Regions from separate parts of the Homo sapiens genome. Here region 2 is reported to be linked to region 1. The links are microRNA targets in miRTarBase. Many come from high-throughput screens and were not tested one by one. Region 1 holds a microRNA gene; the other region holds the end of a gene's coding sequence.
What was found. Region 1 holds the annotated microRNA hsa-miR-199b-3p (ACAGUAGUCUGCACAUUGGUUA, at 3,414-3,435, opposite strand). A microRNA usually pairs through its seed, bases 2 to 8, with sites in the 3' UTR of a target mRNA and lowers its output. Matches are read on the target gene's strand: a 7mer-m8 pairs with bases 2 to 8, a 7mer-A1 pairs with bases 2 to 7 and ends in A, and an 8mer does both.

Region 2: the mRNA of SYNGR2 is a reported target of hsa-miR-199b-3p. Seed matches in the 3' UTR shown: 7mer-A1 at 985-991.

What each region holds. Positions count from the first base shown.
Region 1 is chr9:128,241,332-128,246,401 of GRCh38, forward strand. MIR199B (microRNA 199b) reads right to left here and starts at 3,499; the gene lies at 3,390-3,499. It overlaps DNM1 (dynamin 1), which reads left to right. Exons shown (of 22, transcript NM_004408.4): 15 at 901-1,014; 16 at 5,063-5,070. MIR3154 (microRNA 3154) reads right to left here and starts at 3,699; the gene lies at 3,616-3,699.
Region 2 is chr17:78,171,266-78,176,335 of GRCh38, forward strand. It overlaps SYNGR2 (synaptogyrin 2), which reads left to right. Exons shown (of 4, transcript NM_004710.7): 3 at 245-384; 4 at 474-1,455. The coding sequence ends at 671. TK1 (thymidine kinase 1) reads right to left here. Exons shown (of 7, transcript NM_003258.5): 5 at 4,264-4,353; 6 at 3,785-3,904; 7 at 2,826-3,685. The coding sequence ends at 3,494. Among named protein-coding and RNA genes, the nearest start is that of SYNGR2, 5.2 kb to the left of the region's middle. RefSeq lists enhancers at 608-677, 1,498-1,767, 1,958-2,067, 2,628-2,757, 3,058-3,357 and 4 more.

The DNA of each region.
Region 1 (5,070 bases):
TAGAATCCACAGGCCCTGGACCGTGGCCATGGCTCTGGACAGTCCTGGGGACAGCTGCTTCCTGCCATGAAAAGGGACCTTAGCTTGTTACTCTAGGCACTTTGTGGCTCAGCCCTTGCCCCTGGGGACCTGGAGCCAAAGACCCTTAGAACCGTACTATCATAGCTTTTATTTATTCATACTACAAATATGTATTGATCACTTACTATCTGCCAGGCCCTCTGCAAGGTGCTGGGATGTACTAGTGACCAACAGTTCATGATTTAGCAGGGGAGGCTGCATCGACAGATAATCACACACACGCACGTAGAGAAGTTAATTAAAAATCGAAGCCCTTGTTACAGAAGTCGACTTCAGGGAGTGATCAAAGATCATTATGGGAATCCTGATTTATACTGGGGGACAGGAAGGGGCTGCCTGAGAATGTGAATCCTGAGCTGATACTCAAAGGCTGAGTAGGAATTTGCCAGGCAAAAAGGAAAAAGTGCTTTCTAGGCAGAGGCGGCAGCAGCATGTGTAAAGTCAGAAACACATCTCAGAACAGATGAGACCTTAAGCTTCCAAGACTCGCAGTTGGCTTCCCCAATCGGCCCCATAAACTCTGCTTGCATACTTTTAGTGACAGGGAGCTCATCCCCTACCCAGGCCTCCAGTCCCTTAACTCGGCCAGGTCTGCCTGTCAAAGGCTCTTTATCCTGAGCTGATCTCTGCCTTCCTCTGTCTTCCACTCTGTTCACTTGTGGTTCAAACCAAGGCAGGTCTGGCCCCCACCCTCCCTGACTGCCAGGCCTCAGAGAGCTGGGAGAGGGGTGGGGTTTCGAATGCCTCTCTTTGCCTACCCCATCCCCCATGGGGAGGCTCAGGCCCTGTCCACTGACCTCCTGCCCCATCACCCTCCAGGTCATCCGCAAGGGCTGGCTGACTATCAATAATATTGGCATCATGAAAGGGGGCTCCAAGGAGTACTGGTTTGTGCTGACTGCTGAGAATCTGTCCTGGTACAAGGATGATGAGGTGAGTCAAGGGCCAGTGGTCATCAAGGGGCTGGGCTGGTGGACAGAGTCAGGCTCAGACCCTCCCATGGGCTTGGAGTGGGCTAGACCATGGAATAGGGTTTTAAAATGTCTCGTCAAAGATCCGTGGGCAGGCTGGGTGTGGTGGCTCACACCTATAATCCCAGCACTTTGGGAGGCCGAGGCAGGTGGATCACCTGCGGTCAGGAGTCCGAGACCAGCCCGGCCAAAATGGTGAAACCCCATCTCTACTAAAAATACAAAAATTAACCAGGTGTGTTGGCGGGCGCCTGTAATCCCAGCTACTAGGGAGGCTGAGACACAAGAATGCCTTGAACCCGGGAGGCGGAGGTTGCAGTGAGCCGAGATCGCACCATTGCACTCCAGCCTGGGCAACAGAGTGAGACTCCATCTCAAAAAAAAAGGATCCACGGGTGGAGTTGGGATGCAAGGGTCCAAGGCAGGTGACCCTGGGGGTTCAGGGGGAGGCACCCTCTCACCCAGGTTGGAAGGAGAAGGTAGCTTGGCAGGACTGAGGAGCCTGGGGCTAAGCGCCCTGGGGAGGGTGGGCAGGGGACTTGGGTGCCCCTCCCTGACCCTGCAGCCCAGCAGCCTTCCTGTTTTCCCGCTGCAGGGCGTGCCGCCTCCTCTGTGGCCCCCACAGGCCCATGACACACACAAGTCTAGCTGCCAGACACCCGGTTAACCCCTGCACCCCAGTCCCCTAGACCCCTGCAGTCCAAGGGAAATGACCAGGGTGCCCTCAGGCTGAGGGGCAAGGAGTGTGGGGGCCCTGCCGAGGTGCCACAAAAAACCCCTCCCCGCCCACTAGGGTGCACAGAAGCCCCTGCCACCTCCTTCCCCTGTTGCTGGTCTCCTTTAAGAATGAGTCTATTTGGCTTTCACATCTGGATTCCAGAGGTGACCAGAGAGAATGGGGAGGGCTGGGGGTGGGCTTGTGGTAATGAACTCCAGCTGGCCAAGGAGTGGGGGAAGGGACCCTCTTCTTCCTGAGGGGGCTGTTGGAGGCTACAGCATCCTCAACGGGGGAGCGGGGCTCTGGGTGGGGCCTGTGATTTTGGCCTCCAAGCCCCCTCCCAGGTCCCTGTCTCCTCCAAGTTTGTCCTGGGCAGGGGCCCCAACTCTCCACCTTGGGAGGGGCCCTCTGTCGTCACTGGCGGGGGCGCCAAGCCATCTGGACCTCATTACCCCAACCCTGGCCTCCCCCACCATGGGGGCCCCTGGAAGGGATGGAGTGTGCAGTGGCATGGGGTGCGGGTGGGGGGTGGCTTCCTGCCGGTCTCTCTGCAGGCTCCCTAGATGCCCCCATGGGTTTGGGGTCTCCCATGTTGAGGTTCCTTACTCAGGGCCAGGGAGACCATGTGACCTGGGGCTGAGGGCCGGAGACCGGGTGACACTGTGGGGGAGGGGCACGTGCCACTGAGGGGGTCCCCTGATCTCATGCCTGAGCCTGCAGGCCTTTCTGGAGCTTTTGTGTACATCTGAGTTAAGTCGTGTGCGAAAACAGCTCTGAGAATCATATGTGGGGAGATGGGAGTCAGCTGTGGGCTGTGGGTGCTGGGAGGCGGGGTGTGTTTGTGTGTGTGTGTGTGTGTGTGTGTGTGGCTTGTGGGTCTGGTGTGTGGGTGTTTTTTAGGAGTGTGATTGGAGTATAAGCATCTAGGTGTGTTTGGAATATGTGGTCTGCATTTGCATCTGGGGGTGAAATCTGTGTGCCTGGGGAGTGACTCTGGGCACCTGCCTGTGCTTGGGGTGTAAAAGCAGGTGTGTGTGGGGAGGGGGCTCTAGGAGGGAGGGTGTGAGTATGGGGTGTTTGAGAATCTGTGTATGTCTTTGGGATGTGAGGATGGGGGGAGTGTTCCAGTTGTGAGGGTGTGTATGGGTGTGTGTGCATGCACTTGTGTGTGTCCGTGTGGGACATGGGTGTGAGATTGAAAGTGTGGGGGTGCTCATGTGTGTGAGTTCTGGGGCTGTGAGTGTCAAGGTGCGTGTGTGTTGAATGTGAGTGGATTCTTGCACTAGGACCACTGGGGATGTGGAGGTGGTCCAGGCTGGTGGGAGAGTGGTCTGTACTTCTCTACTCAACCACCAGCCCTCAGGTTTTGGGGTGAGGGAGGCTCTTTGGGCAGACCGGCGGCTGCCCACATCCCCAGTCCCCATTGACCCCCCCATCCTCTCAGTCTTCCTCGGCCACCCTTCCCCCATCACCGCTACCCCCAACCAGTCCCACACAGGGTGGCACCCCCATCCATCTGTGCCTCCTCCCAGCCCGCCCTGTGCCCCAACCCCCTGGCTCCAGGCTCCGGTTCTGGGATGGCAGGCAGGGGTCGGTCCAGCTCTCCAGTGGCGGCGGTGCCGAGGGTCTAACCCAGCCCAGCCTAACCAATGTGCAGACTACTGTACAATTTGGGAGTCCTGAACAGATAGTCTAAACACTGGGTAGACGGAGTGGAGGTGTCCTCTGGTCCATCCAGGCAGCAGTGTCTGTCCATCCGGTGGGCGCTTCAGCCCCATCCCCTGGAGATCCGAGAACCCCCCAACCCCAGCCTGTGTCCCCCTAGCCCCAGACCAGCCAGCCCGTGGTCCCCTCTCTGCTCCCAACTCCCCTTCTGCCTCCTTTGACGTGGCAGGGGTGAGCGGGAGCTGGGGCTGAGAAGGAGGGGCCTGAGGAGGGGGCCGGCCGGCAGGAAGGGAGGGGTGGGGGGAGGAGGCCGCTCCTACCTAGTGTCCAACCCCGAAGCACAGGGCGGGTGGTGGCGGGGCCTCTCTCGAACGGTTCCAGATGTTCCCTGGCCGTGTGTGCAACTTCCTCCTCTCCTCCCCCAGCCGCCCTCTGGGGCTCCCGGCCACCCGCCTGGCATAAAGAGGGCTTTATGTGGCTGCATGGGCCAGGGGGGCGTTGGGGGCAGAGAGGGGTGGGCGGGATGACGCCAGGACGGGGGAGCAAGGTCCCCCTAAACCCAGCCCCCCACCTGAGATCCTAGGCAAGGCTCATGCCCAACCTCTTTGAGTCCCCGAGGCCCACACAGACGACCCCCGTGAACAAGTAGGGCATGGGTGACAAAAACCCCTCCCCTCTCCCAGAGCCCCATCCTGGGGTACCTCCTCCCTAGATCCCTGAACCCCTCCCCTGGGACACAGCAGCCTACATACACATGTGCCCACACCGAGCACACACATGGGCCTAGCACCCCACACGCCTGTGCACAGATACACATAACTCCTCCCAGACAGCTCTAGATAAATCAAACACACAGCCCATTGTACCACGGTGTGCAGGTAAGATGTGTACCCCAGTATAAGTCCACAGGCATGGCTCTGCAAACATGTAGGCTCGCACAATTGCCACACACATCCACAAAGTGTGCACACATCCACACTGAGATGCAGACACGCTGACACCGACACATGGTTCATGCTGGGCACCTCCCCAGATACACATGTGCACACACACACAATAGCTGATAGGATATGTACTTGGGCTTGCATGTGTTGGCACAAACACACAACTACACACATGTTGCACACACAGGCACACCATCTCCAGGCTTGTGCTGGCTGCCTTATTGCTAACACATGGGGAGCTCGGGGGAGTGGGCTGAGCCGGCCCTTTGAAGCCGCCGGGTCTGGTGGCCCCCCTTCCTGGTCTCTGCAGTCAGGAAATGAAGTCAGAGGCGGCCAGGCCGGGGGTGAGAGAGGCCTGAGTGTGCGGTCCCTGCCTGAGGCTGGCCTGGCTTGTATCCAGGACTTGCCTGGGGAGGGATTTTGGGAGCCACTCTCAGCCTCCCCACCCCTCACCAGCCCCCTGGCCCCCGGCATATATGCAGAGCTGGTAGGACTGGCTCTGCGGGGGTCGGCGGTGCCCAGGAGGCCTACGGTCCGTGGCCAGGCTTTTATCTAGCTGCACCTTCGCAGTGGGAGGGGGCTGATGCTTAGAAGCCCTGGGCCAGTCAGGGGGACTCTTAGAGAGTGAGGTGTGGCAGAGAACAGTGCCAACCTCACCCCATTGCTCCTACCTGCACCCACAGGAGAAAGA
Region 2 (5,070 bases), not on the chromosome of region 1:
ACCCGAGCAGATGGGCTTTGCCTCTGCCCCTTTTGTCCCCTAGGCTGTCTGCTGTGGCCCACCCTGCCAAGGCCCGAGTGTGGGGGACTTTGGAGGTGGCTCCCGGCCCGGCTTCCAAGTCCTCCCCTCCATAGTGTGGAGGCTCCCCCGGGAGGTCCCTGCCCTACCTGCCCGCGTCCCCTCCCAGAGTCCTGGAAAGCCCCTCCCTTTCCATGGAACTGACGCTTCACCCGTCCTCCCCCAGCTCTCTGGACCTTCCTGTGGTTTGTTGGTTTCTGCTTCCTCACCAACCAGTGGGCAGTCACCAACCCGAAGGACGTGCTGGTGGGGGCCGACTCTGTGAGGGCAGCCATCACCTTCAGCTTCTTTTCCATCTTCTCCTGGGTAGGATGGCCAGGGGCCGGTTCTTGGGTCAAGGGTGGTGGAGGGTGGGGTCCCCCACCCACCTGTACCCTGCTGTGCTCCCCCTGCAGGGTGTGCTGGCCTCCCTGGCCTACCAGCGCTACAAGGCTGGCGTGGACGACTTCATCCAGAATTACGTTGACCCCACTCCGGACCCCAACACTGCCTACGCCTCCTACCCAGGTGCATCTGTGGACAACTACCAACAGCCACCCTTCACCCAGAACGCGGAGACCACCGAGGGCTACCAGCCGCCCCCTGTGTACTGAGCGGCGGTTAGCGTGGGAAGGGGGACAGAGAGGGCCCTCCCCTCTGCCCTGGACTTTCCCATGAGCCTCCTGGAACTGCCAGCCCCTCTCTTTCACCTGTTCCATCCTGTGCAGCTGACACACAGCTAAGGAGCCTCATAGCCTGGCGGGGGCTGGCAGAGCCACACCCCAAGTGCCTGTGCCCAGAGGGCTTCAGTCAGCCGCTCACTCCTCCAGGGCACTTTTAGGAAAGGGTTTTTAGCTAGTGTTTTTCCTCGCTTTTAATGACCTCAGCCCCGCCTGCAGTGGCTAGAAGCCAGCAGGTGCCCATGTGCTACTGACAAGTGCCTCAGCTTCCCCCCGGCCCGGGTCAGGCCGTGGGAGCCGCTATTATCTGCGTTCTCTGCCAAAGACTCGTGGGGGCCATCACACCTGCCCTGTGCAGCGGAGCCGGACCAGGCTCTTGTGTCCTCACTCAGGTTTGCTTCCCCTGTGCCCACTGCTGTATGATCTGGGGGCCACCACCCTGTGCCGGTGGCCTCTGGGCTGCCTCCCGTGGTGTGAGGGCGGGGCTGGTGCTCATGGCACTTCCTCCTTGCTCCCACCCCTGGCAGCAGGGAAGGGCTTTGCCTGACAACACCCAGCTTTATGTAAATATTCTGCAGTTGTTACTTAGGAAGCCTGGGGAGGGCAGGGGTGCCCCATGGCTCCCAGACTCTGTCTGTGCCGAGTGTATTATAAAATCGTGGGGGAGATGCCCGGCCTGGGATGCTGTTTGGAGACGGAATAAATGTTTTCTCATTCAGTCTCCAGTCATTGGTTGAGCCACAGCCTAGGGGTTGGAGGAAGACTCCACTCTGGGTACACCCTTAGGGGCTGGCTTTATGGAACTTGTAGTTTGAACAAGGCAGTGGCAATCCGCCCCCTCCAGCCTGCCTGGCTGGCCCCCTTCCCTCTGTCTGGGGTCGCATTCCGCACAAGCCTTTCATCAACATCTTAAAATAGTAACTGTGCTCAGCTTGTAAACAAGATGATTTTTCTGGCCTGCAGTGCCAGGGTCCTGCTGCTCCCTTCCTAGAGTGGGGGTGGGGGTACCTGGGAGTTGTCGGTGAATGCCCCTTTCTTGCACTGAATAGGGGTACCATAGGTAAGACCAGGTTTCTACCTTCCTCCAGGGTCAGCACCTCTGGAGCCTTCCTGGGACACGGCCTTGGCCGTCCAGCCCACCCCTCGGAGATAAGGCCCATCTCTGGAAGAGGTCAAGGCCCTAAAGCAACTTCTGGCTTCTTCTTTTGAGCAATGACAGAGGGAGCTGTCATCGGCAAGTCCCGATTGTTTAAAAATCCCCAGTACGAACTAACAGGGCACTGCTCCCAGCCTCACCCGATGGCTTTGGCTTGGGACACATCACTAGCGAAGGGGAGAGGGAGGCTGGGGAGGCCCTGGGAGTGGTGACCCTGCCTGCACAGGACACACCTTACCCCAGCGATGCTTGCCCCCAAGTGAGCTGCCAACAGCCCATCTCTGAGGCACAGCTGAGAGATGTCTTGACTCCTGAATTACCAAGAGTTTGTTTCACAAACAAAACCTGACCTCACAGGCCCAGCGGGCAGGACAGTGCCTCTTCCTTCCAACTGGGCCCCGGGCTCCTCTGTACACCCATTTTTGTCCTGACACTGGCCCAGACAGGAAGGCAGATGATGTTCTGCTTAGGACACACCCCATGATCATTTCTCAGTTCAAGGGTTGTGGTTAAGAGATCAGTATTACTACAGAAAGATCTGGGGGCCAGGTGCAGTGCCTCACGCCTGTAATCCCAGCACTTTGGGAGGCCGAGGCAGGTGGATCACTTGAGGCCAGGAGTTCGAGACCAGCCTGGCCAACATGGTGAAAACTCGTCTCTACTAAAAATACAAAAATTAGCCAGGTGTGGTGGTACACGCCTGTAATATCGGCTACTTGGGAGGCTGACGGGGGAGAATCACTTCAACTGGGGAAGCAGAGGCTGCAGTGAGCAGGGATTGCGTCACTGCACTCCAGCCTGGGCGACAGAGACCCTGTCTCAAAACAAAAGAAAAAAAGATCTGGAAGAAAATCCCCACCCAAATCAAGTTGGAGCTGTCCATGAGACCCAGGGAAACCCAGGTGAAAGAGAAATGTGCGTCCACCAACCAGTGAATTTTCAATTAGTTAATTTCATAAGCTACAGCAGAGGCGTGGACCCTGCCCTCTCCACACTTGAAGAGATAAGCCCCTGGGATCCAAGTCCCAGCAAGGTTGGTGCCACCCATCTTGGTGAAAGATGCTGTTGTTCCTGTGGAAACCATCACCAGAGGTAGGAAGGGCTTTGAGCCCAAAAGGAAACAAGAGGGCGTGAATCCAGGCCATCCTCAGGGGAGGGTGGGAGCCCATCCCAGGCAGAGAGGCCTAAGCCTCAGTGTGGGCCAAGGCTCAAAGGTGCTGGCACAGGCTTCCCAGGGAGAACAGAAACTCAGCAGTGAAAGCCGCAGAGGGGAAGAAGCAGGCTGATGTCAACAGCGTGGGGCTCTGTCCCTCACCCCAAGGAGAGGGAGTGTGCCAGATCCCAGGCCACCAAGCGGGGCCAGCTCCAGCCTGGGCGATCGTCCCAGCAGCTGAGAGGGAAGCTTTAAGCAGACCAGTGGGTAGGAGAGGAGGGAGCATGCGGCAGGTGGGGCAGCCACACAAAGGAGAGTTCCCAGAAGGCCAAGGTGTGGTCACCCTCCACGCCTCCCGACTTCCTCCTGGAGTGGCTGGGCAGCATGCAGGGCAGCGTCCAGTAGGCGGCAGTGGCAGGAAGGGAGCGGGCGGCCCTCGCAGGTCCCTCAGTTGGCAGGGCTGCATTGCAGAATCTGCTGTGGGGCAAAGAGCTTCCTGGCAGCCACGGCTTCCCCTGGCTTTCCTGGCACTGGGCAGTTCTCTTTGTTGTCCGGCCCGGCAGGCTGGCCTGAGGCCTTCTTGAAGTAGCAGAGCCGACACACGGAGTGGTACTTGTCTGCTCCCCCAATCACCTCGACCTGGCCGCAGGGACAGGGGATGGGTGAAGGGCCAGGACAGGAAGGAGGCAGAGCCATACCCCCACCCCGCCGGCCTGCAGGGAAGGCAGGTGGAGCTACCTCCTTCTCTGTGCCGAGCCTCTTGGTATAGGCGGCTTCCCGGAAGCACTCCATGCACACCGCCGTCAGCTTCACCACGCTCTCGGCCAGCGGCACCAGGTTCAGGATGGCCCCAAATGGCTGCGCTCCCATGGAAAGACAGAGGGCGCTCAGCCACCTTACCAGGTGGGTTTTTCTTTTAAACCCTCTGATTCACAAGCACTGAAGCCAGGAGAGTTTGCTCTGACCTTAGTCCTTCCCCCAACCCCCAGAGCACCATGCCCGGCTCTGTCCCTTTGCCAATTCAAAGCACCTGCCGCAACAGATGGCACGCAGTCTGCACAGACCATGGAGTCCCTTGGCTCAGCCAAGGCCTGAGCAGCTCGGCCGTAACCCTGTGGTGGCTGAGCCCTGGTCACCCAGAGCTGGTGTCTCTGTGCCCATCCAGAAGCCTCTTGCCCTCCTCAATCCCAGCTCCAGACCTGGATCAGACGCCTTACCTTCCTCTGGAAGGTCCCATCCAGTGCAGCCACAATTACGGTCTTCCCGGCGTTGGCCATGGCCTCGCAGAACTCCACGATGTCAGGGAACTGGAAAGGGCACGTGGAGAAAGAGTGTGAGAGCTTCCACCCCAGCAGCAGCTCCCTGGAGCCCCAGCGAAGACGCTGCCAGATCTGACAACTCCGGCCATTTGGCCCGGAGTAACTCTTAATTCTCCCACGAGGCTCCCCAGGCCGGGGGACTGTGTCCACCCGCACGCCCCCCAGCAGACGACAGGTACATCCACAACTGCGCAGCCCCTTCCCCCTGCAGCCAGCTTCCCTCCGAGTCCAGGTACCCAGGACTCAGCACCGGACTTCCACACCAGCTGTGCTGTTTAACACTGCAGTGGCCAAAGGCCTGCTGCCTTGGGCTCGGACACCACTCTTCGCTGGACCCATTATCTGTGTGACCTTGGCAATGAATTAACGTCTCTGAACCTGTTTCCTTTTCCTTAAGAGCAAGGAAGGTCCTGTTGTTTAAGGATGGAAGGCCCTAAGTTATATACATGCTCTTCGGTGAATAGGTGGGCGCTTTGTGCTCTTGCCTCCCCCGTTTTAAACGGGTAATGTGCCTTGAGAAGGGGCGGGGGTCCTACTGGCCATTTACAGAGCAGGATGACACAGCACAGCCTTCTAAATTCAGGACCTGCACAGAGCACATTTACTGTGTAAAGCAAACTTCACTTTGGCCCAGGGAGAAGCTGAAACTCTGGCAAGTGCTCTGGTGATTCTCATCAATCAATCATATCACTCTTAGCTGGTTGA